Linked DNA regions of Homo sapiens: all the other regions are reported to be linked to region 2. The links are microRNA targets in miRTarBase. Many come from high-throughput screens and were not tested one by one. Region 2 holds a microRNA gene; each other region holds the end of a gene's coding sequence. Distances are between the middles of the regions.
The links. The annotated mature microRNA hsa-miR-921 reads CUAGUGAGGGACAGAACCAGGAUUC and lies in region 2 at 4,792-4,816, shown strand. An mRNA with a match to its seed (bases 2 to 7 or 8) in the 3' UTR can be bound and repressed. Matches are read on the target gene's strand: a 7mer-m8 pairs with bases 2 to 8, a 7mer-A1 pairs with bases 2 to 7 and ends in A, and an 8mer does both.

Region 1: miRTarBase lists THOC2 as a target of hsa-miR-921. The part of its 3' UTR that is shown has no 7-base or 8-base seed match.
Region 3: miRTarBase lists ANGPTL1 as a target of hsa-miR-921. The part of its 3' UTR that is shown has no 7-base or 8-base seed match.

What each region holds. Positions count from the first base shown.
Region 1 is chrX:123,603,127-123,614,134 of GRCh38, forward strand. THOC2 (THO complex subunit 2) reads right to left here. Exons shown (of 39, transcript NM_001081550.2): 34 at 10,926-11,008; 35 at 10,513-10,582; 36 at 10,273-10,430; 37 at 8,314-8,390; 38 at 7,792-7,837. The coding sequence ends at 7,810. It also overlaps the pseudogene FERP1. Among named protein-coding and RNA genes, the nearest start is that of THOC2, 120 kb to the right of the region's middle.
Region 2 is chr1:166,148,581-166,159,588 of GRCh38, reverse strand. MIR921 (microRNA 921) reads left to right here and starts at 4,791; the gene lies at 4,791-4,846. All of the region lies in intron 1 of FAM78B (family with sequence similarity 78 member B), which reads left to right. RefSeq lists an enhancer at 9,368-9,537.
Region 3 is chr1:178,844,007-178,855,014 of GRCh38, forward strand. ANGPTL1 (angiopoietin like 1) reads right to left here. Exons shown (of 6, transcript NM_004673.4): 4 at 9,588-9,781; 5 at 8,677-8,947; 6 at 5,529-7,310. The coding sequence ends at 7,123. The region is part of intron 8 of RALGPS2 (Ral GEF with PH domain and SH3 binding motif 2); the gene reads left to right. Among named protein-coding and RNA genes, the nearest start is that of ANGPTL1, 22 kb to the right of the region's middle.

The sequences.
Region 1 (11,008 bases), not on the chromosome of region 2:
TATGGCCATTAGGAGAATAAGAAATGGGTTCTCAATCATAAAGGTGCCACGTTACAAGAGGCAAGGGAAATTTTGGTGACACATTTAAGGTCACATTAAAGGATAAAATTGCTGTTGCTGTTAAAACACGTCAAGAACGTCTTCCCCAGGAACTGAAATTAAAATTTTTACTAGAAGCCAAAATCCTCAAGCAATATAATCATCCCAGTAATGTCAAAAGTATAGGAGTTCACACACAAAGACGGCCTATCTACGTCATTAAGGAACTGGTTCCTGGAGGCGATTTCCTCTCCTTTCAGAGAAAGAAGAATGAACTAAAACTCAGTGAAATTTTCATTAGATGCTGATTCTGGATGGTGTATCTCGAGTAAAAAATGTATACACAGGGACCTTGCTGTAAGAAACTGCCTGGAGGTGAAAATAATGTTCTGAAAATCAGTGACTTTGGAATGTCTCGTCAAGAGGATGGTGGTGTGTACTCATCTTCTGACTTAAAGCAGATTCCCATTAAATGGACAGCACCAGAAGCTCTTAATTATGGGAGATATCATTCTGAGAGTGACGCACGGAGCTTTGGCATCCTCCTCTGGGAGACTTTCGGCTTAGGGGGTCTGTCCATAGCCTGGAATGACAAATCAGCAACCACAAGAGCAAGTGGAAAGAAGATACTGGATGTCAGTCTCTTGGCAGTGTCCACAGAGTATTTTAATAAAATAATGCTGAGGTGTTAGGATTACAAACTTGAAAACTGCCCCCAAGTTTACTGAACTTCAGAAAGAGCTAGCTGTCATCAAGAAGAAAGTTGCATAGTGATGAAGCAGTGCCAAACTCAGCCTTCAGGACTCTATTTTCAGCAAAGCAGTATTTTTCTTCTTATTAACATTTATACCACATTACCTGCAACATTCTCCTAAGTGTTTTATTAACTATTTTTTAATATGTACTGCTTTAACCATTGTAAATAAGAAAGTGTAAGTTCTGAATGTAAGGGATCACACAGATCTATCTTTTTCACATCTAGGACTGTTGCTGCTTCTCAAAAATTTTCTACTCCAGGCTCAGTTCATAGTCTGCTGTTCTCCATCACAGACACCTATTGGTGCTATAAGCTGTATTGGTAATATCACATACCACATTTGTAGGACACATCTCAACAGAAGATGGCCTTCCTACTCTGCTGAGACAAGATTATATGTGTGAACGCCATTTTATATTGGTAATTATCTGGACCTCCTGAGTTGTTTGTTTTTTTTTTTTCTTTTTGGCCAGAGATAGGTCCTGTTTTGTTAGTAAGACTGCCATTTCCCTATGTTTCACAATGCCGTCCTATGCACAAACATCCTCAAAGAGTTGAGGCAGCTGATTTTAACTGATGTTACAGAGAGCTGTGATAGCAAGAATCAAGTTTGAAAAGTAAGGTGGTCTGGAGAAAGGAACAGCTAGGGTGGTGATCAAAGTAGAGAAGAAAAGGCAAACATAAAACCAGCCTTCTTAACAGAGGTATGCCTTTATAAAACACATACACGCTTTTTAATTTTATGATCAAATTCACCAAAAAGGTCCTAAGAAATGTTTTAGTAGTTTATATAGATTCTTCATAAAAGAGCCCTCTGGATGGCAACCAAACAATTTTTAAGAGAAACTATAAAATCAAGCCCACCAAAATAATATATTATTTTTGGTTAAGTGTCTTCACTTCACAGGAAGCATCCCAGAACTGCATTCCATGCATTTTTACTAGTGTCTGAAACTGTCAGGATTTTATTCTCATTCTCTCGTTCTTTTCACATAAACCCCAGGTAGAAAGGCATATAAAGATGAACTTGACATTTAAAAAGTCAAACAAATATTTATAAGGAAGAAAGAAGTTATGAGAAAGACATGGGGACAGCCATCCTAAATCCACTTTACTCCTTCATTTACCCTTATACTGCAACCTAGGAATTCTTTATAGCAAACAGAGTTCCTGAGATGTTCCACGTGGATAAAATGTAACAGAGTTAAGACGTGGATTCTGTTGAGCTGAAACTTAACTGCACCCAGGGATGCTTTTCAGGATAATTATGTGTGTAGGGGAAAGACACACTCAGGGCAAATGTTGTATGGAAGCCTTTTATAAGTGCTCATGCCCATGTCAAAATTTTAAAAAACAGCATATAAATGAATATTTGCTCTACCGTAAGTGGAAGAGCAAGGAAATAGAAAATTTCTCCTGCCCTCTTCAACTTTTCATGCCTATGAATATCAGTGCACAAAACCTATACTCAGTATTTTTTTTAAGTATAAAAGTTGATAATGAAGACAGAAATGATTTGTGTCTGTCATTTCAAGCTCCTTACAAGAGTCTAGTATACATTTAATGGTTACTACATACAGACCAAAATGAGAGCATATTAAATCTGCCCTCAAAAAATATGCTGCAGCAAATAAGCAAGCTCTTTTAATCAGTATAGGTTCCCTTCCTATAAAATGGTGTGTTTGGTGGCAAAAAAAGTCAATGTTGCACTTATACAGAGATATTAAATGTTTCTCTGGCATCAATGTGAACATTGATGAGTTCCCTATCCCATACCCTTTACCAATACCTATCGTCAACATCTAGGAATAAGCCTCAGAATGGCAATGCATTCCTAAAACAAGAAATCTTCAGGAGCTTAGGAGGTCAGTTTCCAAGTATGAACTGAAGGGAAAACAAACAAACAAAAAAAGGCTTAGAGCTGGAATTACAAAATCAATTGTCTACAAAGGCCAAGAACGTGATGAAAACAAAAGAAACGAGCTGAGTGGGGACTGACGGAGGTGAACTGTTTTTAAAAAGGCCCTTGCTCTATTCTAAAGGGGGGCAGCACCTAGACAAGTCTAGCTGAAATCAGGACATAATGATGCTATGCAGAAATCAGAACACAATGTTACCAGATGTTCCAATCCTTCAAGAAAAACTGAAATTTGGATTTTGTCAATTCTGATTTTTAAAAACAAACAGATTTTTAAAATTTTGAAATATTGTGTGAGGTTAAGAAGGTGCATTTTGCTGGCGGTGGTGGCTCACATGTGTAATCGTACCACTTTGAGAGGCAGAGGCAGGAGGATTACTTGAGCCCATGAGTTCAATACCAGCCTGGGCAATATAGTGAGACCTCGTCTCTACAAAAAAAAAAAAAAAGAAAGAAAGAAAGAAAGACAGGCCGGGCGTGGTGGCTCACACCTGTAATCCCAGCATTTTGGGAGGCCAAGGAGGGCGGTTCACTTGAGGTCAGGAGTTTGAGACCAGCCTGGCCAACGTGGTGAAACCCCGTCTATACTGAAAATACAAAAAAATTAGCCAGGCATGGTGGCACATGCCTGTAATCCCAGCTACTCGGGAGACTGAGGCATGAGAATCGCTTGAACCCAGGGGGTAGAGGTTGCAGTGAGCCAAGATCGCACCACTGCACTCCAGCATGGGTGACAGAGAGAGACTCTGTCTCAAAAATGAAATGAAATGAAATGAAATGAAAAATAAAATAAAGTACATTTAACATCCCACATTCTGCCCAAGGGCTGATAATTTGCAACGTAGGATTTAGAGGATAAAAATTAGGTTACACATGTGAGACTGGAAGGAATGGACCTGCAAATATATTTGGCCTTCTTGGAATGGAGGATTAGAATAGGAATGTAGTAGATTAAAAATACAGATTATGAATAAGTAGTGCTAACTGCTAATGTTCTTTAAAATCAAAGTCCTACATCCAAAATAATAAAAAGCAAGGAGACTGAGTATCTCAAGGCCTGGGAGCAAATGTCAGCTTAGCACAGCATTTGGTTCACAAAAGGACTTTCAAAAGTTTGCTGAACTCAACATCCCTGAGTTGAGGATCACATATATCAAGTTAAAATTGAGAAGCCAAAGGGTGGTGGTTCTCAGAGGACAATTTTATAAGCAGGAATTAAAAAAAAAAAAGTTAAAGTAGGAAGGAAGGTTAAAGGCAAAGGAACTAGTAATCTTCAAGAGACTAAATCAAGGAGAGGCAAGATGAATTTGTACAAAGACTTTAAGGGCAACAGAAGATGCAGAGAAGGAACAGAGTTTTGCAACCAAAAACAGAAGACGAGAAAAGATGACAGAAGACTGGAAGGAATTTAATTATGGTCATATTTATATACTGTTATCTTCTTAATTCTTAAGAGACAGAGTCTTGCTCTGTCACCCATGCTGGAGTGCAGTGGCATAATCATGACTTACTGCAGCCTCGAACTCCTGTGCTCAGGAAATCCTCCTGCCTCAGACTCTCAAGGAGCTGGTACTACAGGTGCATACTACCATGCCTAGCTAAGTTTTATTTATTTATTTATTTATTTATTTATTTATTTATTTATTAGAAATGGGGTCTCACTATGTTGCCCAGGCTGATCTCAAATTCCTGGCCTCAAGCAATCCTCTTGCCTCAGCCTCCTACAGTGTTAGGATTACAGGCATGAGCCACCATGCCTGGCCTTGTATCTTAATTCTAATGTGATTATTTTAATGTTTGTGAAAATCAGGATGATACTTACAAATCACTGTCATTTCTCTACCAACCCTCCTTAAAAAAACTGTTCTAAAAACAATAATGAAATCTTACAAGTAACGACATCTTTCAATCATGGAAATATGACATATGTAAGAGCTGTCCTTTCTATAGAATAGAAAATAAAAGGTGAGTGGGGGAGGGCAGCAGATTTCAAAGTAGCCTGTAAATAGACGGTTCCAATCAGATATGATAACATTCTTAAAGAAAAGGAAGAAAAACAGACCTGACCAACCCTGGAATGTATCCAAATAGAAAGTAGCAGTCAACAGCCAGAAAAAGAAACTATCAGCCAGGCATGGCAGCTCATGCCTACAATCCCAGCACATTGGGAGACCAAGTCAAGCAGATGGCTTGAGTCCAGGAGTTTCAGACCAGCCTGGGCAACATGGCGAAACCCCGTTTCCATTTAAAATTTTTTTTTGTTTTAAAATAAACTATCGGCCAGGTACAGTGGCTCACGTCTGTAATGCCAGCACTTTGGGAGGCCGAGGCAGGTGGATCACCTGAGGTCAGGAGTTCAAGACCAGCCTGGCCAACATTGTGAAACCCCGTCTCTACTAAAAATACAAAAATTAGCCAGGCGTGGTGGCACGTGCTTGTAGTCCCAACTACTAGGGAGGGTGAGGCAGGAGAATCGCTTGAACCCGAGAGGTAGAGATTGCAGTGAACCAAGATTGCACCATTGCACTCCAGCCTGGGCGACAGAGTGAGACTCCATCTCAAAACAAACAAACAAAAAAAAAAAGAAACTATCAGCCAGATGGCCCAGCACAGTGGCTCAGACCTGTAATCCCAGCACTTTGGGAGGCCAAGGCAGGTGGATCACCTGAGGTCAGGAGTTCAAGACCAGCCTGGCCAACATGGTGAAACCTTGTCTCTACTAAAAATACAAAAATTAGCCAGGTATGGTGGTGCGTGCCTGTAATCCCAGCTACTCAGGAGGATGAGGCAGGAGAATCTCTTGAAGAATCACCAGGAGAATCACCTGGAAGGCAGAGGTTGCAGTGATCCAAGATCGCACCATTACACTCCAGCCTGGGCAAAACAGCGAGACTTCTTTGTCTCAAAAGAAAAGAAACTATCAACCAGAGTCTCACAAAATTAAGAGTCTACCCAAGAAGAAAGTATCGTACAAAGTTGTCAATGAGGAATTCAACAGGATGGACATCCAGCTAGACATACTTTTAAAAGAACATCTGAATCTAGAAGTTTTGCTATAAGACCACGAGCCAAATATCTAACCCTGACCAGTTTTGTCATCCCTTTGTTCCTAAGAGATTACACAGAGGGGTAAAATACAAATTCATGGTCAGTGCAAGAAAAACTCAAATCTGTAGCATAACCTTCACATACAAAAGAATAATATTTGGGTACTGAGTAAACAGAGATATATAAAATCACTGTGAAAGTTGTCAGTGACAATGGCTGGCTCATTCCTCATGAAGATATGAAAGGTGGGCTTTTTGTTTTTCTTTTAATAGGGAGACCACATGTGACAGCAAAATGCCAGATTAAAAGAAAGGTTAAAATGAGGATTAAGAGTTTATGGCTCACCAGAGAAGATAGTTGTAAGGTTGGGATGGGGGTAGGAGCAGCTAGAATTGAAGAATTAGCAGTAATATTTCCTTTTAAATCTATTAAATTCGAAATGTTCTTTTATAACTCTCATTTACCCTACTTTACCCTAATCTACTTACATAGCAAGCACCAAAAAAGCAGGAAAAGCACACCATTCATCATGTGTTGACTATAAGGCAACCTCTCGAATCCCTGCTTTGCAGCCAAAATAAAGATGACAAAATCCATACCTTTAAGCCCATACCCTTATACAGAACTGGCTCTCAGACATTTCTCACTTGTAATTTAAACACTGGTAAACAGCCTTGGTTATCTATCTGGTCTCATAAAAGATTAGAAGCATCCAATAATATTAGGGGGGAGGTATAGACAAGCAAGGATACTTAATTAATTAATATATTAACGAAGTATAGAAAAGCAAGTATACTTAATATATTAAGAAATGATGGCTAACATGGAAGCAAGAAAACGGGCTATAAAAAAGCAGAGTCGGCCAGGCACAGTGGCTCACACATGTAATCCCAGCACTTCGGGAGGCTGAGGCAGGTGGATCACGAGGTCAAGAGTTCAAGACCAGCCTAGCCAACATGGTGAAACCCCATCTCTACTAAAAATACAAAAATTAGCCGGGCGCGGTGGCAGGCGCCTCTAATCCCAGCTACTCAGGAGGCTGAGGCAGGAGAATCGCTTGGACCTGGGCGGCAGAGGTTGCAGTGAGCTGAGATCGCGCCACTGCACTCCAGCCTGGGCGACAGAGTGAGACTCTGTCTCAAAAAAAAATAAAAATAAAAAAATAAAGGCAGAATCAACAGCCTCAAAACACAGCTGTCTGGAACCATTACATTTAGGGGGCAAATTGTCCTACGTACTTCAATAATACTAAGGCATCACCAAACAGTAACTATTCAGATTATCTTAAGTGCTCAAAAAAGGCGATGTTAGGGTCTGAACACTGTATCCACTATGATGGAAACACAATTTATTTAAGATGGGTAAAATACTTTTTAAATCTCACATAAAGCATTAAGTGCATTACCTAAAAAAAGAAAAAAAAAGAAAAAAAAAGTTACACATTGTAAATTCCAGAACTAAAAACACAGACCATATTTTCTGTTGCAAAACATGGGCAGTGGTAAAAAAAAAAAAAATGGCACGAAAACTTAAAAATCTTTGGATAAGACATCAGCATGAGAAAGCAAAAGGAACAGAGAACACTAAAGGATAGAAAGACTGAGGATAGTCAACTGGCTCTGTTGACTAATATCTTTATGACCCTCTTCAACTTAACCTCTCAGAGTCTGTTTCTTCACTTATAAAATGCAGATACCACTACCACCATTTACAAGGCAATAAGGACTTTAAAAACATAATTAATTATCCAGAGAAGATGGGAATAAGTGGTGAAGAGAAAGCCAGATGTTCTTAAATATATCTTGGTGCTTAAAAAAAAAATGTGTGGCTAATCAGCAAGCTTAAAATGAAAACAGCTTAAAAATAACTCTGAATCTTGTTTTGCATCTATACCCGAAGACTTGGTCGTTATATTTAGGTGAAAAAAACAAGTAGTTGTAGCTTGTAAAATGCATCTAGTTTTTCAACATTATCAGAACTCATTTTATGTTTCTATCATTAAGTGAAAAGGTGGTGAGAGAACACTCACCTTGATGGAAAGTCTTCATTATCTGTGCTTGTCCGAGGACTTATGAGTAGATGACAAATTAAGGGAAAACAACTTTTGGGAATGGCGGAAAGAACAGCATCTCCCCTTTTAGTACAGCACCTCAGGTTGCAGGCCTAAATGGGCTCTGACCAGCCTGGTAGCCTCAAACTCTACCAGCTCTGCTTGTCTGACTCATCATTTTGCCCTTCTATTCCCAATGTCCCCAGCCCTAGGGACTCTCTGTTCCCTTTCTTCCTCTCTGTGATAATATAACCTGAAAGACTATAAATCCCTTAGTGGCATAAAACATCTCAGTCACCACAGAAGTATTTTTAAATATCAAGAACATCAAGTATCCCACTTCCAGATTTCACACATTTTGAGAGTTAACTGGAAAGACCATTTCAAAACTAATCAGCCCTTAAGCATATAAACCACATACTAAAAGAGTACAATTGTAAACATGACCAGTATCAAAGCTTTCTACTACACTAACTGAAAACATCAAAATGAAAAGGATATTGTTTCTTCTCTTCCTTTCCTCCTGAACTGTCCCGTTTCTCTTTCTTTTCTATCTTTTCTTTATCATGCCTGGACTCCTATAAGAAATAGTAGAATTAGCTGGGGAAGGGAAAGCCAAATATAAAAGCCAGCTCAAAACCCCTTTTCATCACCCGCGAGCTATATTTGTCTTCAAAAACTTACTTAACATGACACCAAAAGCATAAGCAACAAAAGGAAAAAAATAGATACATTGAACTTCATCAAAAGTAAAAACATTCATGCATCAAAGAACACTATCAAGAAAGTGAAAAGACAACCTATAGAACTGGAGAAAAAATTTGCAAATCACCTATCTCATAAGGATCTAGTATCCAAAGTACATAAAGAACTCTTACAACTGAGCAACAAAAACACAAACCCTCAAAATAAAAAATGGTCAAGGTATCTGAACAGATTTCTTGAAAGATAAACAAATGGCCAATAAGCACATGAAAAGATGTTCAGCATCATTAGTTATTAAGAAAATGCAAATCAAAACCACAATGAGACACCACTTCACACTTACTGGAATGGCTATAATAAAAAACAAAAACAGAAAATAACCAGTGTTGACAAAGATGTAGAGAAATCTGCACTCTGATACTTTGTTGGTAGAAATGTAAACTGTACAGCCACTGTCTAAAAGATTTTGGTGGTTCCTCAAAAAGTTAAACATAGAATTACCATATAACCCAGAAATTCCATTCTTGGGCATATATCCAAGATAATTAAAAATAGGTGTTTGAACAAATACTTATAGCCCCACACAAATGTTCACAGCAGCACTATTCACAATAGCCAAAACGTGGAAACAATTCAAAAGTCCATCAACTGAAAAATGGATAAACAAATGTGGTATATTCATATAATGAAATATTACTTAGCTATAAAAAGAAATGAAGTAAATGACACATGCTACAACATGGAAGAACTTCAAAAACATTATGCTAAGTGAAAGACATCAGACACAAAAGGGCACATTATTGTACTATTTCATTTATATAAAATATTCAGAATGAGTGAATCCATAAAGAAAACAGATTTATGGTTCCCAGGGGCTGAGAAGGGGAAATGGGAGTGACTGTTTAAATGGGTATAGAGTTTTCTCTTGGAGGTGATAAAAATGTTTTGGAACTAGATAGAGATGATTACACAATACTGTGAATATACTAAATGTCACTTAAATGTACACCTGTAAAATGATTAATTTTATGTTATTTGAATTTTACCTCAATTAAAAAACACCTAAAAGAACAGCCTATCTTTTAAAGCATAGAATTAAAATGTTCATTATATAATTTTCTAGAGCTGTTTTTATGAACTATGAATAAATGGCATATATTTTCAATATATATAACAATGTTTTGGAAACAATTTATACTTTAGTAATGGCTTGCTTATTACTTTATGGCAGATGCGTGAGATTCACTTTAAATATCAACCATTAATATGTAAGAGAATGTATCTTATACTCAATTTTTAAATCAAATACAAGTATCAAACAAATGAGTTTATTAGGAGAAAACGTTACAAAAATGTTTCAAATCACAATCAAGACTTTATGATGCTATGATGGTCAGAGAGAATACATGTGACCATATTTTAATCTCAGGAATAAAGAGAAACTAAAAGCAAAGAGTTGGTGGAGAAAAAAGAAAATGCAAAGAACAGCTGAAACTCAATCAACAGAAGTAGGTGGGAATGGAATGGAGAGGGGAAAGGAATCTCAGAGGTATACTAACTCTACCCTCCTGGTAATCTGGGACTGAACTGACTCAAATTCCCCAAACGGAATGCCCTCCCTCAATACCTCTTCTTCCCACTCCTAAATAATGAACAAAAGACTATAGGACTAGGAAAAAAATTCAATATTTGCTAAATTTTCAGGATTGATTTTTTTAAGATAAAGCATATTATTCCTTTATTTTCCTAATTTACCTTTTTGCCACCGGAGGAGATTTTATCCATCTTCTCAGATTTAAATGAATCACTGCCTTTTTCTTTGCCTGAAGATTTTGACTTATTTTTTTCCTTGTCTTTCTCATTTGGATAAGGAGATTCACAAGGACTTTCACTTTTATGTTTTGAAACCCCCACTAAAATTACAAAAGAAAATCATGAAAGCCTTTTCCAATTCACTTCGATGATATCTTCAAAGATATGAATAAGTCTACCTACTTGTTCCATTCTCCTCTTTACGTCTCTTGGTTAAGTCCGGTGGCACTTCACGGTCGTTGTTTGAGTGATCCTAGAACCAAGAATTGTGAACTACATTGACCAAGGGCTTCTGTTTTTGTTTTAAAGTATTACTTTTATATGAGAAGGGCACAGCTAACTAGCAATGGAGAGTATTTGCAGTAGTTTCACATACTTGGTAAAATGGCATGAAAGACAAGCAGAGCTGACAGAGATTACTAGGCTGAAGATCCTTATTAACGTAGAAAATGCAAACACTTCAGGGTAAAAATATCAATAAAATCATGAAATAACAGACTACTATGGAACAAACTAGTATTTTTTAAAAGGCAACATACACACTGGTGTACATGATAATGAGCTTTCCAAACTAGTTTAAAAAAAATTTTACAAACCCTTTTCCGCTCTTTCCTGTCCTTTTCATCTTTTTTCTCTCTTTCTCTGGATCTTTCCCTTGACTTGTCCAAATCTTTCTTGT
Region 2 (11,008 bases):
AATGCTGTTTTAGGGGCAGGTCTGCAGAGGCATCATGTTCCAGGTTAAGGATGCAGACTGGCAAGTGAAAGGGAAATGCAAAGTCTGGTGTGGGGTGTGCAGTCCCAAATATCCCCTTTCCTTCTAATTCGTACTGCATTCTGATCTCATCTGACCCCCTCATCTGACCCTCTCATCTGATCCCCCTGGTTCTTGGGAACTAGGTACTATTGTCATGCTGATCTTACTGATGAGGAAACTGAGTCTCAGGGGGTTGGGTAACCTGCCTGAGGCCATACATCAAGTAAGTGGCCGAGCTGAGACTGCAAGCCATGTCTTCTGACCCTGTGTCCTGGCTTTCTATATACTGCCACAGTTTGGCCTGTGAGGGGGACAGGTCAGCCCTCCATTCATATCAGCACAAGAAAAGTTAGTAGTTATGGCCGCTGTTACTGTCATCATGCACCTAGCTCTTTTCCTCAAAGCTTCTTGCAAGGAAGCCTAGGGTTGCCCAAAGGCTCCAAGTAGTTGATAGCATGGCTTTCTTCTTACCCAGCTTCCTTCCCTGGACCACTTTGATCTACTGATAAGAAAAAGTTGTCACAGATAACAGAGGGGCCACAACTTCTGTTGTGTTAACACCAAGCAGGCCACAAGAAGTGGCTGTCATTTATAAGTTGGTTATTATGGACTCCTTTGAGAAGATAAATAACAGGAAATTAGCAGTAGCAGAGCATCCTGGTGAATACTTACAAAGAAGCAGAGTCCTCGTGGTGCTGAGGGTCCGTGGAAGGGATTGGTGCCTGCCTGCACACCAGCAGCAGAACTGCCCACAGAGTGGGATATTCCCCCACAGAGGCAGAGTCATCAGGCAAGTTGCCTCTTATTCTCACTAATCCAAATCAGTGTGGTATTTAAGGATGGTTCTAGAGTTGTTGTTGTTGTTTTGGGTTTTAGTGAAGAAGGTGTGAGTGTGCCTGTGCCAGGAGAGTTGTCCAGATCGAGGAACGTCTGGAGATGCTGTTTGGGAAGGAAAAGAAAGAGAAGGGAAATAACACACGTGAAAGGTCTATGTGCCCGGCACTGTGCAGGGTGCTTTCCATGCATGGCCTCATTGAAATCTTACCCAGTGAGGGAAGTTATCCTATTGTGAGGTCCAGGGATGCTCAGTAGCTAGCTCAAGGCCTCATGGCCAGCAAGGAGCCGTGCCAGGAGTCTAGCTCATGTGCTCTGACTACTCTGGTTCTTTTTAAAAATTATTTATTTATTTATCTATCCGTCTATTTGAGATAAGTCTTGCTCTGTTACCCAGGCTGGAGTGCAGTGGCACAATCACAGCTCATTGCAGCCTGGATCCCCTGGGCCCAAGTGATTCTCCCACCTCAGCCTCCCGAGTAGTTGGGACCACAGTCATGTACCACCACACCTGACTAGTATTCTGTTTCTAATAGATGATGGCCTTATCTCCCAGGAAGGGGGTTCTCTGAACTTGCTTTGCAAAATAGTGATAATGGACCTAGCTTTATTGGTTTTCTCTGATTTCTGTATTTCCTCACTCCTTTGGAAACAGAGTAAGTTGCTCTGAGATCATGTGTGTGAACCTCCTTGCATTCCCCTTGAGAATGGCATTGGTGGTTAGCTGTAAGAGCCATATCTTTGTGAGGGGCCAGGAGTAAAGACAGCAGGGAATAAGCTCCTTTCATGCTGAGGAGCACATTCCTTGGGAGCAGGGGGACGACATCCTCAGTTCTCGGGCTGCAAGCTGGTTGGTCTGGGCTGTAGCTTTTAGCCGTGTGCCTACACCTTCAGGCCCTAATGGGCAGCCCTGGGCCCCAGCAGACAGTCACCCAGACTACCCAGGTACTGGATATGGATAGCTATTCATCCCTCAAACTCTCCGGGCAGTTGCTGTTCGGGTGGATGATTAGGAAGAGAAGGAGAACAAGGATTCCCATCTGGTGGTGGAAGGGACCCCTGGCTTTGTCATCAGCTCATTGGACATACCTCTGGCTCCCAAGAATTCCTGCACTGTTCCTTTTCTCGAGGCCCATGTGGACCCTGCTCCCTCATTAGGTTCTGGGGTACATGCCAGTTGGAACTGTTCACTGTGCCAGTGGAAGATTTAGCTGCTGGTTCCCCAGCGCAGGGTTCCAGTCAGAAGATCTGGGTCCCAGTGCCAGCTGCATGACCTTTGGCAGGTCCCTTAATAAGCCAGCATCTAGTTTGCCTGTACATAAATGGACAGTAATAAGATCTCCCCATCCTAATGCCATACGGATTAGGAATCAACACTTGTGATTTTTGTTATTACAGAGCATGCTCGTTATTATTGCTAGAGGATGACTGTGGATCAGCCTTAAGGAACAGGGAGGTTGTGGCTGTGGCCCTGCAACTTCCCTGGACAGAGAAGCATTCAGACTCTGGAGAGGGGTCTCTGGCATGTCAGCTATACAAACCTCCCCTACAAACCCACTCAAAGATAGAGGGGAGGAGAAAGGCTTGCTCTGTACATCTGGAGCCAGGGCTGTTTTCTGTTCAAACTCAGAGGAAGGCATTGGAGCCCCCCCCCCCCCTCCGCCGCCCCCTTGACGTCATGTCACTCAGAAGTCACCCTCCTTGTTCTCCTCTAAGCTGTAGACTTTGGGAAGCCTCCAGGACCCTGGCTGCTCCTAATCCCTAGGCATGATGCCTGCAGCCTAGCCACATCCTTATGGGGACTTCCTGTCCTATCCCTGAGCCCTTCTTTGGTAACAGTATCACTCAGGCTGGGGGAAGGAGCTACAGTTTGTCCAAGCCAAGGACTTGAGGGTGGGGTGATGCTGGAGCATGTGAGCCATGCTGTTCATGCTCAGGAAGGTTGTGCAATTTCCACCTTAGGGGGACAGTGAGACCAACACCTGAAATCATTTGTGTCCAAAGCTATTTTTAAGGTACTTTATTCTTTGCAGGTCCCTTTCATGATTTTTGTTTTCTTTATAAGGGGACCTCTCATAATTAACCTCACAATAATCATGAAACATGTAGGACAACAGTTATTCCTATTTCAGATAAGCAAGCTGAGGCCTAAGGAGATTAAATTATGTGCCCAAGGTCATCCTGGCAAGCACTGGTAGACTCAGGCCTGATGCTCAGGCATCCCACCTCCTCTCCCAGTGCCCTCCATACTGAGTCCATGATCAGCCAACCAAGAATGGGAGTCAGGGATGGGAGAGGTCATCCTCAGAGCCATGTGCATTGGGCACCTCTGGCTCAGACAGCATGTGGACACTTTTAAGGGCATCATTTATGATGTCTGAAGACAAGAGAGGGTAAACAGGACCACCTAAATGTCTTCAACAAGCGCAAAGAGAAATTTTCAGGCTGTCAGATTAAAACAAGATAAATAAGGCCATTTTGTTATTAAAACAAAATAAAGGATGGCACATCAACAGGGTCACTGTGCGAGGCCTGCCTCGCAAAGCCTCTGGCTGGCTCCTGCTCCTGGGGCCTGACCTTTCAGAGCTGGCTGGTGGGCCTGTGTCCGGCACAGGCTCTCAGAGGCTGTTAGAGGCCTGGCTAATGGGAAGCGGTAAATCGGCATCCGCAGTCAGCACTTTCTGCAGCATCCCGAAGGAGCAGGCAGAGGCTTCTGGGGCATGTGTGGCGGCAGGTACAGGCTTTGGCAAGTCCAAGAGCTGCCAGAAACAGGCAAATTAGATGTTGCTTTGCCCTCTGCATGGGGGCTCAGGCTGGGATATGTAGGGGAAGAGAGGCGTGAAGGGAATCAGACATGCCCGTTCTGTGAGAGCAGGATCTTACTTACCTTCTATTCCCTCTCCCGAGACCACACACGCTGAGCCTCCATTCCAAAATGGCAGTCCCCACACCTGAGCTGGGCAAATCAATTCAAGAATAGATTTTTTGTTATCACTTAATGATTTGAGAATCTGTTTCAAGCTTCCACGAACCATCTTCACTTTCTTTAGGAAGGATGAGTGATTTGTGCCACAAACTAACCCCCAACCTCCTGTTGAAGTTATTTTCTTGACGTTCAGAACCAAGGAGCCTGTCTTTTGCTAAGAAACCTGCACACACTGAGTGATGGGCAGCTATGTGCTCGTCTGTCTCCCCGTGAAACCATGAGCAACTTACTCAACTTGATGATGATAACAACTAGTGTGTGCCAGATGCTTTAGATGCACTGTCTGTAAAGTAGGTAGCACCATTATTTTCCTCATATTAGAGATGAAACGGAGGCCTACAGCGGTCGGATAACATGCCCAGCATTACTCAGCTAAGTAGTGCCAGAGCCAGATTTAGAAAGCAGGTCAAACTAATTCCTGTGACTCCTTATGATGTTGTACTGCCTCATAAGGGTTGAATGAATGAATGTCCAAATGAATGAATGATCAGGAAGTATTCAGGATATTGCTTGAGTGTTTGCTTTCGTCCTTGCTGAGGAGACTTGGGAAACAAAAGGTTTAAATCAAATTGGAAATGACTAGTCTCCTTGCCTCCCAGCTGCCTGGTTCACTCAGCTGCTCAGGATGTGATAGTAATGAAACCAGGGTCTTGGGATCAGACCCAGGGGACCATCCCAGCACCAGAGGCAGTCCTCTGTCCTTTCAGCTACCTCACAGGTGACTGTTACCAGCTACCAGTCACAGCAGGGTCTTGATTAAAGAGTAGAGAAATGGCCAGAAGAATGCAAGTGGTAGATCAACAGAATCATTTTTAACTTACAGGGTGTTAGGATGGTGCGGGAAATCATCTAGCTCATTTGCTTCTTTTACAGATGGGGACGCTGAAGCCCAGAAAAGGGCAGTGCCACAACTAGTGAGGGACAGAACCAGGATTCAGACTCAGGTCCATGGGCCTGGATCACTGGCTAATTCTGTGGGTCAGGGCTGGAGGCACCCAGCACACCTAGTCTTCAAAGCAGCAGTCAGTGGTCACCTCCCCCTGTTTTTTCATCACTGCCTGCCCCTGCCCCCCAGCCAGGTTTGCTGAGGGTCCAGGTCTTCAGGCAGAGATGGCCACCTGCCCAGGAAAGGAAAGTGCACAGGGTGCAGGAAGAATCCATCCCTTGGCAGCACAGAGAGGAACTCACATCAGCCCAAGGGATGTCTACACAGTTGCCAGGAGCAGAGAGTCCAGCCTGTTTTCAGTGTCTATATGCAGTGATTAGCAAGCAAGAAAGAAGAGGGTCTCCCCAGAGACACCTGTCACAGATGGCAGGAGATGGGAGGGCTTGGCAGCCCAAGGGAAGGGGAAAGTATGGAGAAATTGAGATTTAGCCGGGATTCCCAACAACCCAGAATCCCTTTCTTCCACCCCTCAATACCCCCCTTACCCTAGCCCTGGTGCTGATGGCATGCATGGCCCTCCTGGCCCCTACCCACACACAGGCAAGGTATCTTCCTAGCCCCTGGCAGCTCTAGAAGAAATAAGATCCAAGTAGCGTCAAAGATGACAGATTGTGAGGGGGCCAGGGGCCCTCCCCTGACAGCAGGGCTCAGCTGGGAGGCCTCTGTGGAGCAGAACAGATGGGAGAAGTCTGAGAGGGATATCCTAGCAGCCTGGAGACCCTGTCTCTGTTGTGGCTTTTAGTTGGTTTCAGTCAATTCTTTTGTCATTGTTTTGTTTTATTGAGGCATTTCAGCATAGGGGCATGATCAAATGGTGCTGTGTCTGCTCACCCTAAAGGAGGTGGGGTTGGGGAAGAATGGGAGGGAACAGGTCTAGGCAACACCCCATTTTGCTTTGCCCTTGTTGGGATCTAAGGGGGGTATAGAGGGAGGACTGCAGAGGGAGACGAGTATATACCTCCGAGCATCCTGCCATCACTGCCTGCCTGGCTTACTCTAAAGCTGTAGTTTCTGTACCACTCCACACTTCCTGTCATGAGGACTCTGGGAATCCAGGGCGATGTCATGTGGTCCACCTCCCCCTTACATAGTCCTGTTGCAGCCTGGCCCTCCTTCTCTAAGCTTGCACTGGGACCAGGCTTCTACCCTCCCTGGAGACCTGCGTAGAGGAGGAGGCATCCTCATGTTTCTTGGGCTATGTGGACCCTTCACTGTTGTCCTGCCTGCCTGGCATGTCCTGTTCCAAGTCCTATAACTCACAGGGCTCCTGCCTGTCTGATCGATTGGCCCTGCTGCCTGATTCTCAGTATTTGTTGCCAGGTTCCTGCCTGCCTTTGAACTACTTGTTCATCTTTGTGTCCATCCCAAGTTCTACCGGCTTGGTTTCTGACCCTCTGCTTGTCTTGGGATAGTCACTCTTTCAAGCTGCAGGGCTTTAGCCAGATGCCCTTCCCCAGACCCCTGGATCCCCCCACTTCTCATTGACTCCCTGACTTGTGCTCCCCCTCTCTCTCTGGAGAGATAAATATGGAAGGAGCCACAGCTGGAAGAGCAAAGCTGTTCTCCACCCTTGGAGCAGAACCATTCACCCTTCTCTTGGGAGCCCATGAGTCACTCTGTCTTCCACGTTGCCTCCAAGCCTGGCTGGGCGTCTACTTTCATCTCATGAGTGGGTTTCCAAAAACCATGGATGATCTTTATAAAGAAAATTACTTGTGATCTAAAGGGGCAACTCAGCTAGAGTTCTGGATGTCTGGTGAGGAAGCTGGGAACAGTTAAAACCAGAGTACCAGCTGGGCGCACTCACGCCTGTAATCCCAGCACTTTGGGAGGCCAAGGCAGGCAGATCATGAGGTCAAGAAATCGAGACCATCCTGGCCAACATGGTGAAACCTCGTCTGTACTAAAAATACAAAAATTAGCTGGGTGTGGTGGCGTGCACCTGTAGTTCCAGCTACTTGGGAGGCTGAGGCAGGAGAATCTCTTGAACCCAGGAGGTGGAGGTTGCAGTGAGCAGAGATCACGCCACTGCACTCCAGCCTGGTGACAGAGCGAGATTCCATCAATAAATAAATAAATAAATAAATAAATAAATAAATAAATAAATCCAGAGTACCAAGAACTTCCCCTGAGCATGTGGGGTTTGGAATCCAGGGAGAGGGCACAGGTTAAAGGGGGATTGATTCAACAAGTGTCCGGGGCCAGTTCATCCACAGCAAGTCTGCAGCAGAGAGGGAGTATGAAAGAAGCTTAAGCACATGGTTGTCCTCTGGGCAAGCATCTTAAAGGCCTGGATATCAAGAGTAGATCCTAAAATACGGAAAAGAGAACAATTAATGGGGTGCAGACAGGGCCAAGGGAAGCTATGGTGGGCCTAGTTTCTCACGACAAGACCAGACAAATTCTTGACCTTTGGTCCTGCCGCATCCCGCCAGCGTGGAACTGAAAGGCCCGGGCAAGGTTAGCAGCTGCTCCCATCCCTATCCCTGACACCTGAGAACAACAACCACCACGGGCTTCTCTGCTGCAAAGCTCCCTGGGGTAACATCTCCAGCTGGATGGCTGAGCAGATGGCTTTAGCTAGAAGATTCCAGAGAGGGGAGGAGCTAGGAACACTGAAGGGCCCTTTATAGCCTCGGTGGACATCCTCCTCTCTGGCCAGTGCCTGGGCTGCTGGGATTCTAAAATGTCTTTGAGAAAATTTGTCTTTTCAGAACCTGTATCTGACAGAGACTCTAGATAATCTGGGTACCTGTGGGGTTGCGTAATCACAATTGAAAAGTCTTTCAGAGATGGGACTGTTGTATAATTAGGCTGAGAGTTGGGCCCGGGGTAAAGTTAAGTACTGGTATGGATTTAGTGCTAATGGGCTCATTCCTTCTACTGGGCCGTCAAAGTTGAACAGTAGGGGAGAGGTAGCATTTGTCTACATGATAAAGTTTTTGCGGAAACCCTATCTGTTGAACTTGAACCTTGGGATCTGTACATAGTTACTTTTTCATGAAGCAGCTAATTCTCTTTAGCCGAATGGTTGAACAGTTGAGTGGGTCTGGCACTTGAAGCAGAGACATTTGGGTACAGCTCCTACTGAGGAGTATTTGTGAACACCTGGAAGCTAAGATGGTTTCTTGTCCACTTACATCTGGCCATGGTTTCTGTGGCTGTATCAATGACTTCAGATTGAGGGATCCTAGGCCAACAATTGGACAAACTCACTGCTGAGCCAAGAAAAGCAGGATGCTTCTGGATCAGAACCCAGGAATGTTTAGGGCTTTATTCTAAGAGGGAGAGTCTTCCTTGGATGCTGGGAGGGTTTTTTCAAGATTTACCTTCAACATCTGGTGCTTCCTGAAACGTCTGGTCATCAGAATTAGAATCTAGAATTATACCCTAGTACTTAACGACTTTCCACTAAAAGGAAAATCTTGGAATGTTTTCATGCCATCCTCAAAAAGCAAAAACATTGAAGAAATGTTCTATCAGAAATGCCCCTGGTTAAACTGAAGCAGAGTAACCAGAGAGAAAGAAGTGGACGAGACAGTCAGATTGTCTTCATTGAGACATTTCAAAAGCACAGGCCAATTTACAGGGTAGCATTGAACTCTTGAGCTATTACAAGTCTACGTGCATTTGTTTCCAGTCTCAAGTGTTCAAATTCTTCTCTGATGCCATCCTCTATAACCCAGCACAGAACTGAGGTGAATCTCTCTGCAAGCTCCTTGGCAAAAATCAACTTCTATACCAGATTAAAACCCCAGTTCTGGGTCATACCATCCAACTTCTAAACATTTCTGATTTACCTCTATTATATATTTTAATTTTTTTTATTTTTTAAATATAGGTAGAGACAAGTTCTCACTGTGTTGCTCAGGCTAGTCTCAAACTCCTGGGCTCAGGTAATCCTGCCTCAGCCTCCCAAAGTGCTGGCATTACAGGCATGAGCCCCTGCACCCAGCCTGCTTCTATGTATACTTTAAAAGAATGTGTATTTCTTGTTGTCCATAAGATCCCATTTGCTAGTTGTATTGTACAAATGTTCTATATTCTTGGTAATTTTTATGTTTGATCTATCATTTGAGAAGAATGATAGAAATTTGTGTATGAAATTTGTGTTGAAATTTGTGTATGCTAGTGTGGTCGTAACTCTTTTTGCAGTTTTTTCACATTTTACTTTGTACATTTTGAGGATGAGGCTGCTTACCTCTTGAGTTGTGGGCTTCCTCTTCATTTTTGACCCCTAGGAATTTATTTTTGCAAATTCAACTGTGTATTCAAGAAGAAACTTGCAATGTAGGAGTTTTTCAGGAGATTTAGTCTATTATGATTTACTTACTATATTCTTCTGTTCCTCAATTATAGAGAAAAGTAAGCTTTTCATGTCTCCTTTTTCTGGTTTGAATGACTGTCTTTCAAAGCAAGCTGCCTATCTAGGCAAGGCTCTTTGATAAAAAGAACTGAGGTTTCTTTTTACTTAGCACTCCACTGTTAGGGGTGAAGGGGGAGCCAAGGCACTGGGAGGGTTTGGGTCTAAGGCCAAGGACAAGAGAGTCCAGCACGTTGTCCCACTGTGCACTAGGCACAACCACCTGGGGTATACTGCTGCCTCAGCAGACCCAGTTTCTCTGAGATGCATTCCTCAGACATCACAAACCCCCCCTGAGGCACAGCCATCCTCATTGTCCCTATGCAGTATCAGAGTCCGAAGTAGCTAGCTCCAGGTTTCTCTGCACCTGTTCCCTGACCTTACCCCCAAGGCTCACTTTGCACTAGCATTTGGCTTCTGGCAGGCAGGAAGCTTGTTGCTTTCTTCTCTTCCAGGTGGCTCTAGGAAGGACCAGCAGAGGGAAGGGAGGTGGGAGAGGAGACCAAGAGGCAAAGCAGTCATTTGGAAGGTGCAGCCAGCAACCCCCAAGAAGGCACACATGCCTAGTATCACCCTGCACTCAGCAGGCTGACACTCTCCAGAGGTGGGGATGGAGCATGGGGATTCCCTGTGTGGAGGTATTCTACGATATGGAGCTCAAGGTGGTTGGGGCCATATAAACCTTGAATGTAATGAAAAAGGCTAGGCTTGAACTTTAATGTTTACAAAAATGCTTCCATGTATGTTACTCCTATTGAGCCTCACACTCAACTTTTAGAGATGGTATTATTGTTCTCCATGTAATGAGAGAAAACCAAGGCTCTGCATGCTGAACTGATTCAGCAGGTTTACGTGGTTAGGAGGTGGCCACACTTGCCATCCAATTCCAAATTGATTACTCCCTTTAAGTAGCTGATACTGGAAAAGGGGAAAGTGATAGAACTTCTGAAGCTGAAAAGACCTTGGAGATCCCAGTCTTCTTCCTTGACTTTACAGGTGAGAAGACATGTAAAAAGAGGTAAAAAGGAATTGCCCAAGCTCATACAAAAAGCTAAGAAATCCTCAAAGGATGGAGTTTAAGATATCTGTTTTCTATAACAGTTCAATTCAGTGAATGTAATTTTTTGTTTGTTTGTTTGTTTGTTTGTTTGTTTAATTATACTTTAAGTTTTAGGGTACATGTGCGATTCCTCAGGGATCTAGAACTAGAAATACCATTTGACCCAGCCATCCCATTACTGGGTATATACCCAAAGGACTATAAATCATGCTGCTATAAAGACACATGCACACGTATGTTTATTGCGGCATTATTCACAATAGCAAAGACTTGGAACCAACCCAAATGTCCAACAATGATAGACTGGATTAAGAAAATGTGGCACATATACACCATGGAATACTATGCAGCCATAAAAAATGATGAGTTCATGTCCTTTGTAGGGACAAGGATGAAATTGGAAATCATCATTCTCAGTAAACTATGGCAAGAACAAAAAACCAAACACCGCATATTCTCACTCATAGGTGGGAATTGAACAGTGAATGTAATTTTTATGAATGCTTATCACTTATGTGAGGAACCCACTCTGTGGTGGGATGACAGTCTACAGGAATAACCTAGCTGAATGGACAACTGCATTGGGAGAAAAGGATATGAGCTCCCTTTGTCATCTGATCTTCCTGGCTCAAAGTGACAGCACAGGTTGTCTCCTCTCTCATTTCCGTTGAGTTCCCATTAGAAGTCTGAGCTGCATCCCAGCTGCCCGCCTGCCATTGGGCAGATCCTTTTCTAATACAGATTTTCATCATTGATTCA
Region 3 (11,008 bases), 13 Mb from region 2:
CAGAATCCTTTTCTATTCATGTGAAGGGAGGCTTAGTACAGTTGACAAAAACTTCAGCATTTATAAATGCTGTACATTTGATAGAAGTTGCCCTAAGAACAATTAAAAGGTAAAACTCATTATGCAAATTGGTAGCTTCATTTAACTATTCCTCTTCAAGTATACAGAGTTTGCATAATGCTATGCTTTATTCATTATGTCTGCAGAGGTTATTATGGAAAGAATATATCCATGAAATATCTATAGTGCATAGAAAAAAGGTAACCGCTAATGATTTCTTAACATGAGGTATATGGTCCAAACTAATAGTTTTTTCTCCCCTAAAAATGAGAACCAAAACCTACCAATTTTTGTGAAGCTTGTAAAAGGGAGTAGAGTCCTATATGCTGGTAAAACTCTTATTTTGATACCACCAAATTTATCTGTAGTTCAATGTGGATTAAATTATAAGAAGTAGAAATGTTTTCTCGGCTCTCAACTCATCATCCCTTGAAAAATTGTCTCTTCTGTTGGTTTGCATTCAAGGTAAAAATTAGTCAGCTTGGACAATATCGTGAAAAATTCTTAGAATAAGGATATAATTTGTCTAGAGAGGAATAGTTGGCAAATCTGAAGGAAAAAATTGCTTTATAAGAGAATTATTGCTTTTAAATCTGAAAGTCATTAACAACACTTATTTGTTCTTGTCATTGGAGAACAGTCTTAAGGGGCTTGTTGAAGAATTTGGCATGGTAAGTTTTATTTTGCTGACGAGAGCAAACTAGAATATTGTGAAAAAAATAATTTAGTTATATGAAACATCATAAATATTCTTTAATGTGCTTTTTCTAAGCCTCATTTCTACTTTATGTACTACAAAGATGCAGTAGCTCGACCAAGAAAGCATATTTTGGCTAGGTGCGGTGGTTCATGCCTGTCATCCTAGCACTTTGGGAGGCTGAGGCAGGTGGATCACCTGAGGTCAGGAGTTCGAGACCAGCCTGGCCAACATGGCAAAACCACGTCTCTACTAAAAAATACAAAAAATTAGCTGGGTGTGGTGGCACACGCCTGTATTCCCACTCCAGCTTGGGTGACAGAGCAAGACTCCATCTCAAAAAAAAAAAAAAAACCATATTTTTTGAACTGTGGAAATCAGTAAATTGTTGCAGTACTCTGTACTGCTTCCTATTAAGTAGAAGCAGAATGTAACAGAAAAGTTTTTGTAAAATCTCTAGCCCTCTGTAGAATGTGAGTATACTCTTTTGGTGGATCTAGATATGACTCCTTTTTCCTGTTGGAGAGAGACTTCTTCCCCTTCCCCATTTAATTTTTAATTTAATATGTCAGGTTTTCATGATAGTACTTTTTTGTTAGAAGAGAAATACTTTTCTTATAACCCTCTGTAATATAGTGTTCCTTGCCTACTGCTCTCTGAAAAGCACCCTGTTTATGATATTTTCATTAATCTGTCTCCTCCTCAACAGAATGTAAGCCCCTATTTGTCTTGGTTTAAGGGTTTATCCTTACAGCATCTAGAACAAAAGTAGTCATATAATAAATGTTTCTTGGTTCAACTAATTATCCCTTTCTAGCTCTTCCCATTGTTTCAGTGATTTTGATTTAATTTCTGTTTAAACAATAAATGTATTTGTGTGGCATATTTGCATGGGTCAACTCCTTACCCACCCCTGATTTTTTTTGTTGTTGTTATTTTGTTTTGTTTTTGGTGCCTCAGCTGGCACCTAGTATTTACTTAGCACTGTGCTTGGTGCTAAATATATAGCAAGAGATTACAATGGGCTTTGTCCCTGCCTTTATAGAACTTAATATCTCTGGAATTACAAAGGTCCAGGATATCATTAACCTCATGAATAATCTCTCCTCTTTTCTATATCCTGGAAGAGATGCATATCATTGCCTTGTGCCTTACATTGTTAGTGGTGTCCTTATCATAGTTAATGACATTTTTAAAGCATACCTAAAATGATAAGAATCTTACCGATTTGGTTTTCAGTCGTTTTTGCATATATTGAATTGTTAAATATTCAGTAGAATATAGTTATTTAGTTTTAGAAATTTCTAACTCATGTAAAAATGTTTTCAAGAATAATAGTTTTGTATTCATATTTCTATTCAGATAATTTCAACAAAGTCCAAGTCTTTTTGCTGATCTGTAGGAATTAAAAGGAGATTTTTCCTCTCGTTTGATAGAATTTTTCTTCAATATGTAAGGCTCTGACACTGATCTCAGAAATGCCTGTTGGTCAATAAATGTCATTGGCTTTTAATATTTCAAGTTTTATTCCATTTTCCTTTCTTTAGTTTGATTTGTCAATAATATACATTATGGATTACCTTACCCTATTCTTTTAATTATATGTTGTTATATATTGTATACTAAAACAGCAGTAAAGCATCTTCACTGATTTTCTTTTGGATTTGAGAATAAGCTCTGACCAAATGGCAGCTAGCCCCTTTTCTTTAGCCAGAATTACATCCCCATTTTCCATTACCTCATTTATATATTTTTTTACCCTCACTCTTTTATATATTTAAAATTCCTCTAAATTCTTTGTTGATATGTTTTCTGAAGTTTACTTTAGACCAAAGACTTCTGAAATAAAAGAGCTGGGGGTGGGGTTGTGTTAATTTCATCCCCATGTTCATAGTGTTTTCTTTAAGTGCCTTGTCTTTCTAAAAAAATAAGAACAGCAGCTATACAGATCTGCATGCTAATTGTAAACAGAATCAGATTCCCCTAACAACAGTTTTACCAGTGGTGTTTCCAACTGTGAATATTTCAGTGATTTGTTTTGTAATTTTTTTAAGCAGGCTTTAGCAGGAAAGTAATAATTTCAGTAACATTTATTCAACACTTAGGCCTATATAGCTGACACTGTACTTTATATAGATTATCTAATACATAACAGCAGTTTTATAAGGTAAATGATACTTGTATTTTACAGGTGAAGAAACTGAGACAAAGGAGTTTAAATTGACTTGCTGTAAAGATACGTATTTCATTCACAGCTCAAAGAAAGCATTATGGATTACATTAAAATTTGGGGTATCTGTGTTCAGGTTAAAATTTTGAGTTCATTCATCAGTCTTTCCTGTAATTATGTGTACAATTATAACTTGATAACAGTTAACTCCACTGATAAAACTAAAAAGTGGCCGGGCATGGTGGCTCATGCCTGTAATCCCAGCACTTTGGGAGGCCAAAGCAGGCGGATCACCTGAGGTCAGGAGTTCGAGACTAGCCTGGCCAATTTGGTGAAACCCCATCTCTACTGAAAATACAAAAATTAGCTGGGTGTGGTGGTGGGCGCCTGTAATCCCAGCTACTGGGGAGGCTGAGGCAGGAGAATCACTTGAACCCGGGAGGCAGAGGTTGCAGTGAGCCGAGATTGTGCCATTGCACTTCAGCATGGGCAACAAGAGCAAAACTCTGTCTCAAAAAGAAAAAAAAAAACTGAAAAGTGAGCTAGTTTAAGATAAGATGGCCATTTTTTCAGGGCGAGGTCATAGCCTTGTAAGTGGAATCATTGTTTTCTTACTTGGTTATTTTTCACAGACACTAGAATAAAAAGACTAAAAACTTGTTAGGGTATAATAATCTTTAACTTACTACAAAGATTAATTTAAATATATGTAAACCATATTACTTTAGTACAGATTTATAAGTTATTTAAAATGTTTTTATGATTGTGGAAGGTTTATTCTGCTGCTTATATTACCAGCAGGAGTCCTAAGAAATATAATGCTAAGAGAATAGCACTCTCCTGTCATGACTCAGAGTTAAGTAAACAGTAGAATGAAAATTGATCTTTATTCTACGAGGCATGAAGCCCAGAGATAGTGTATTTGTAGGTGTCTACTAAATTTCAAGTTGCTGTCTAATTTTGGCATTTTCCAAAATCTCAAATTTTTAAAATCTGCTTCAGGAGGTCAGGTGTTCTAGGCAATGATGGCCTCCCATTTAGTCCAGAATAGAGTCTATATCTGTTGTAGGATAAAATTCATTAACTTATTCTTGACTGGACACAGTGGCTCACACCTGTAATCCCAGTGCTTAGGGAGGCCAAGGTGGGAGGATCACTTGAGGCCAGGAGTTTGAGACCAACCTGGGCAACACAGTGAGACCCCATCTCTACAAAGAAAATACGAAAATTAGCTGGGCATGGTGGCATGCACCTGTAGTCCCAGCTACTCAGGAGGCTAAGGTGGGAGGATTGTTTGAGCCCAGGAGTTCAAGATTACAGTGAGCTAAGATCATGCCACTGCACTCCAGCCTGGGTGACATAGTGGGACCCTGTCTAAAAAAAAACAAAAAGAAAAATTAAGTAAAAGAATCCTTCTATAAACCAGCTCTAAGAGAAGGTTGTAGTTCAGTCTTACTGAAGATAAGGCAAACCCATCTTTATTCCTAGATGACCTGCAAAGTAGGTAGCTCTTGGACCTTACCTACCACACAAATGAGCTAACCTGGTCTTTCACAAGACTCTCTTTAGGCTGAAATTCATACTATGTCTCTTCTTGCCTTAAGTTTTCTTTTTATTTTTGGTCCAGCCACTTAACTGCCTACTATAACAGCTGTCATGGCTTTGTTAGATTTGCAAGTGAAGATAATGGATCAATGTAATTTCATACCCGAAAACTTGGATATTGTTTTGTTTTTTGAGAAAGAGTCTAACTCTGTCCCCCAGGCTCGAGTGCAGTGGCATAATCTCGGCCCACTGCAAGCAATTCTTCTGCCTCAGCCTCCCGAGTAGCTGGGTTTACAGGCATGTGCCACATCTGGCTAATTTTTGTGTTTTCAGTAGAGATGGGGTTTCACCATGTCGGCCAGGCTGGTCTCAAACTCCTGAGCTCAAGTGATCCACCTGCTTCGGCCTCCCAAAGTCTTGGGATTACAGATGTGAGCCACCACGCCTGGCCCGGATATTGTTTTTAAAACACGTTTGTTGATCACCTACTCTATGCAAGGTGCTATGATTTGTATTGCAGAAAGTACGTAGATGAGTAGTAATAATATGATAGTTTAAATCTGAGTACTTACGAATGTCAAGCATTATTCTTAATGTTTTACCTGTATTAACTCATTTATTTGATCGTCACAAAAACCACGAGCTAGATATTCTTATTATACCCCATTTTATAGATTCAGGCTGAGATAGGAGTTTATAAATTGCTCAAGGTAACACAGCTAGCAAGTGGTAGAGCTGGGCCACAGACCCAAGCAGTTCTGACTTCAGAACCTACACTAACTATCATATAATACCGCTTCTTATTCTCTCCTCTCAAGAAACTTAGTTGCCCAAGTTATTATGCTGTCTAGGAACTTCAGAGTAAAATAAATCAGCTCTCTGAAGGAGAGCAGAATGGGCCCATTGGCTAAGGCAGTTTAGCATTCAGCCTAGTTTTCCAAGGTTGTATGTTGACTTTCAAATTCTAGTTTTAATGATATTCTTCTGTGAAAATTCTGTAAGGCTTGTCTTTGATAAAGTTTTGGGTGTTTAAATGAAATGATATACTGCTTTCAATAACTGAGAAGCCTTGGTAAAGTTTTATTCACTTAAGATTTGGTGTAACAGTTAGATGCCCAGTTCCTTCCAGGAATCTTATAACAGATTCTTTGGTTCTGAAGGAAGTGGAGAGGGACTGAAAAACCAGTTTAAGATGACCACAGGTAAAACAAAGAATAATACCACTATGAGGTTTGGATATTTTGTTTAATTTGTTTCACCAGAAGTTTTATTTTGAGATGTGGCAGATGAAAAACATTGGTCATGTTGATGGATTTGAGTTGTCCAAATGATTATCTTCACATTAAGCTATTCCCATGCATAGTTTGCCTCACACATTTCAATTCGAGGTTTTCTTTTTGCTTAAGCAAAAGTTTCATGAGCTATCTTTAAAATTTTAACTTCACAAATATATTAAGGCAAGGTCACCTCTAAGCAGTGAATATGTATTCCTGAAAGGAAATTGTTCCAGAAAGTCACTAGTAAAGTTGTTGATTGCAAAGATGAGTTAAAGACACTGTGAGACTAAGCGTTACATACACTGTAAAATGAAATTAGCAGTTTGGACTAAGCTATGCCCCTGTGGCTTCTGCTCTGGAGCTGTTGAATTCTCAGTATCGGGAAAACAGCCAACAGTTCCTTGAGTTTGTTTTAGTCCCACCTGTTCTGAGCATGCACTAATACTTGTAAAGCTGTCCAAACTTTCTGATTTGAATTGCAGATTGGTTGGGTTTTTTTTTCTTTGTAGTAGTAAGATCAGTAAATTAGAAAAAAAGTAATAATAAATTAGAACTATAATTCAGATCTGTAGCACACTAAATATTCTGCATTTTTGTAATACCAATATTTTGCTGATTTTAGAACTACATAAAATGCATTTCTGGAGATTTTGGTGTTCAGCATATCATATGAAGATAACACTGAAAAATTCATTCATAGATTTGTCTTTATAAATTGACCATTTAAATTATGCATGCATTATTTTTGGGTTTTTTTTTATTTTTAAAAATGATATGTATTTAATACTATGGGTCATGTTTTGGGAAAATCAGCATAGGATATATTATTAAGAATTCAGATTTAATCATTACGTGTGAAAGGCACAAATTCAATTTGAAATAACTTTTATTCAATGGAAGAAGCATTTTCTATTGGCAAAACTAGAGGTTTCTCCCTAATTTTCTGTCTGTATTTTTATAAATAAAATGCATTATTTGGCTGAAATTTTAAAAATATTTTTTTCACTAGACGTTAGAGCAATCTTAGATTTTAAATAAATTGTTAAGTATCTTGAACATGTTATTTATGATTTAAAATATAGCTAAGATTTGCTTTACATTGTGGCAAATATTTACATTTTAGAAAACAAACTTTGTATTTAGTCAACATAATTTTTAAAATAACTAGGTTGTGGATACACATAATTTTCTGCAGTAATTGACGACAGATGAAACTACATTTATAGGTTCCCTTTTATAGTTACGGTAAAATTCATTTTAAAAACTTTCTGTGTAGAAATAAATTGTGCCAAGTAATATACATGTAACATTTACATTTTTAAGAGCTGAAAAGTACAAAGTTCTGTGTCATTTAAATTGGCGAGTGTCTCTCTTCAGTCAATAGGCTTGATCATCATCTGAACTGCTCTTAAGGAGTATGACCCGCCTCTGTATTCGGCCCAGAAAATTCCATCTTGGTGCTTGCTTCTGTAATGGCCTCCTCTGTACCATACTCCATTTAGGTTAGAATGTGCACAGGCATTGTACCACCAGCCTCCTTTATGAAAGTGGGCGCAGTTTCCTTTGAGGAAAAAATACAGATATAAATGTAAAAGTTTCTTCTAGGTGTGGTACTCTGCAATCATAAAAAACTTATTCTACCTTTAATTTGAACTTCCCTTACTAATCCCAGTTACCTTTATCTCAGCAGTTTTAAATGCCTTCACTTACTTGATGGCTGTTGCATCAACTGCTTGAAAAATCACTTGAATTGCCTTTTTTTAACTCTTTGCTTGCTTACAATGTACTTTTTTAAAAAGGGGGATTTAATTTTCTAGTTAGCAGAGTAGATGCAAGCAGTGTTTATATGTGAAAGAGTTACAGAGGGAGAAATTGGGAAGGAAAGATACAGAAGAAGATAAAAGTCTGAGGAAAATTGAATTGTCAAAATAAAATAGCAAAAAATAATACAAAGTAAAATAAAACCAGCAGTCAAATGGGTTTCTGTAAATAAGACATATGTTATGGTCTATCTCTCCTCTTTTCTCGTTTACCAGTGTAAAATTGGTTAAAATAGAGACCTGTGTGCTGTTTGCCAAAATACAGCTGGAGAGAAAAACCAGTTTGGGACAGGGATGGGGGAGAATTGTTGGGTGGAGGGGAGGAGGGGATCTCTGTATCAGGACGAGAAGAAACCTGGGTTAAAAAGTCAAAAGCATATGAAAACTAAATTTGAAATTATGTGGATGGTCTAGTTGTTTCTTTCTAATGAAAATATTAATTTCCCCTTTGAATCAAGCTTTTTTGTTATTCCTATGCCACATGTCACAGTCATCTTGGTTTTCCCCCTCAAAGAAATGCTCTTACACCATGTATCCAAATGGCTTGCATCCTTCATTTCTTGCGACTCTTTATTCAAATGTTGCTTTCTCACAGCAGATTTTCCTGGCGAACCCATATAAAATAGCTGCCATCCCAGGCCTTGCTGCCCACCACTTTCTATTTTCTTACTCAGTTTTATTTTTGAGAGTACTTATTCCCACCTAACAAATTGTTTTGTCTCTCCTCCAGTGAGTAAGCTCCAAAGGGCGGGAACTTTGTTCACTGTTATATCCCTAGCACCTACAACAGTGCCTGGCACGTGGTAGGTGTTCAGTTAGTATTTGTTATGAATTGTAGGCACTTGCATTTTATTTCCAGATTAATGTGTTTCTGTTTTGCTTTGTGTTTTTTTCCCAGAACTTTGTTTTTCACATAGATCACACTTTGGGATTGCCTTATAGAAGAAATCCTAAAAGCTATTTCTTTCAGTAGGTTGGTTGTATTTCCTGCCACAGTGACCAAAACTGACCTTTTTGAAAAGACTTTAGTAGCATATATATTAGTAGATTCTATTTAATGCATAGAAGGTGATGATTCTACAAAGAATGAAAGTTTTTCATACTTACCTGCATACATATCTTTATCTCTGTCCAGTGTGGTGAATTGTTTACCATTATGCCACATCATAGAATCCCCTGCATTTCCCTGGTAAGTTCCCAGGCGCAGTCTATAGAATTCACTTTCAGGTTCCAGACGAAAGCTGCTGTATTCTGCATAGACTTTTTTATCACTCCAGTCTTCTAATTCAATCAATAACTTGTAATTATCTTGATTGCTAAGCATATAGATATTTTCCAGTCCAAGCCAGTATTCTCCGTCAATGTTTCCAAACCCTTTCTGTTAATAAGTGAAGAAACATGAGTGCATAAATAAGTATAGAGATAGTAAACATTTTTACAGAGCAGTGTTAAACATTCGATAGCATAAAGATACTGGCCATTTAAGTGGTAATGTGAGCTTCCATTTTAGTTGGTCACTTGCGTTTTATAAGCCACACATTGTCATTCTCTTTTTGTTTGTTTGTTTTTTGCTTCTGATATGTCAGTATTCATTTGCATAGCTAGCTTCAAATCCTACAAATAAGACAATGCAAATGAGAATAAAATTTATCCATAGCTACTAAAAATATTAGCTAGTATACTACCCAGATCCTTAAAAAGGGTTCCTGGTCTCTCTCATATTCATCTAAAGAGCCCAACATTTTTTTCCTAATAGTAATCTTTGTAAAGTAGTAAGTATAAGTCATCCAGACTGAAAGGGATCATTTAAAAGTATATCTTCTGTTTCCTTTTTGCAATTTAATTTTGACTTTAAAACCAGAGATGAGAATCATTTTTTTGACAGATGTAGATAATGAAAAAACATATGGATAGTTATTTTTAACTGTGTGTCTTATTTATTGCATAGCATCTTGTTTCTTGCATTATTGCAAGAATGGATTTGTTTTACTTCCCTTAGGTCTGCATCACTGATTTACCTTATAATTTTCCCAATTTCTGAAGAAGTTGACAGAGCCGTCTGTTCTTTTCTGAATAACAGTCCAACCCCCAGGGTCCAAACTGTTTTCACACCATAACTGCATTGGTCCATTGCTGTTTTCAGGTTTAATCATATAAATCCCACTGACCGAATGCCCAGCTTCTTTTGCTTGCTGACAGTCTTTGAATGGTCCTATAATTTAAATATCATTTATTATCAGCAAACTTAATATGAGAAGAGACATGTTAAAAGTTTTTAATCAAGATTTTTACCTTTGTGTCTTTGTTTACAGTTACCATTGTTTATCATATATACAATATTATAAAATATAACTAAATAAAAGGGTGACTCCAGTTCTATCTGGAACATTAATTTGTTTCGTTTTCATCTGTTCTTTTCTTTTCCATATATGTATTTTTTATATTGTTATAATCCTAATACATGTAGAAAATTGGATTCTGTCTTAACATTTTCATGCAGCTATAGTCTCCATTCTAGCTGCATAATAATCCTTGACATTGATATATTTTTATCCTTCTATCATTGGACATTGAGGTTTTATGGATTTTTGCTATTATAAAAACACTGCACAAAGTGTCTTCATTCTTATTGAATTCATTTTTTAATATTATAAAAATGCTGAGGGATCGATCTACTGGATCAGAGGATATCAGTTTATTCATAGTCCTACATAATACCCAAGTTACAGTTTTGGAAATTTGATTTCAGTGGAACATACTAGTACCTTGAGATACTCATTGCAAATGGGGTCAGTCAAATAAGTTTTAGAAATGCAAAATATTATGTTTCCCTTTTGGAAATTCTCAATGTACATTCACATATTAAAGACTGAAAAGCCCTGAAATAAACCAGATGCCCAAACTCATAGAATCTTAAATTTCCCCCAACAACACTTACTAACAGCCCATGAGAATACATTTCAGGAATGTTAGCATAAATGAGTATCTAAAGAGTTGTATCAATCTGTATGACTAATAGTAATTTTCTCATTTAACCTACAGTTACCTGGTGATAGTTGATAGATGTTCTAGAGATAGAACGATTAACTAAGGTCATGTATCACAGAAGATGGTAAACCCTAGATAGACATAAATCCTTGTCTAATCCCAGAGTCCCTGCTCTGAACTGCTGTGTTGCATGCATTTGCCCTCATGTTATTTCATAATTTTAGGTATTCTCCATTTTTAATCCACTAATAATTTCTTCAAATTTTACAAGTGACAACACATTTTGTGAAATTACTTTTAGGGTGTCTGACTCTTGAACTTGAGATTTCCACATTTTTGGATCAGGTGAATATCATCCTTCTCCAGTGTTTCGAGCCTTTTTTATAAACATGCAAAATATATTAATGGATTTAGAAAAAAGAATTACCCTAAAGATCTCTTAGAACAAAAA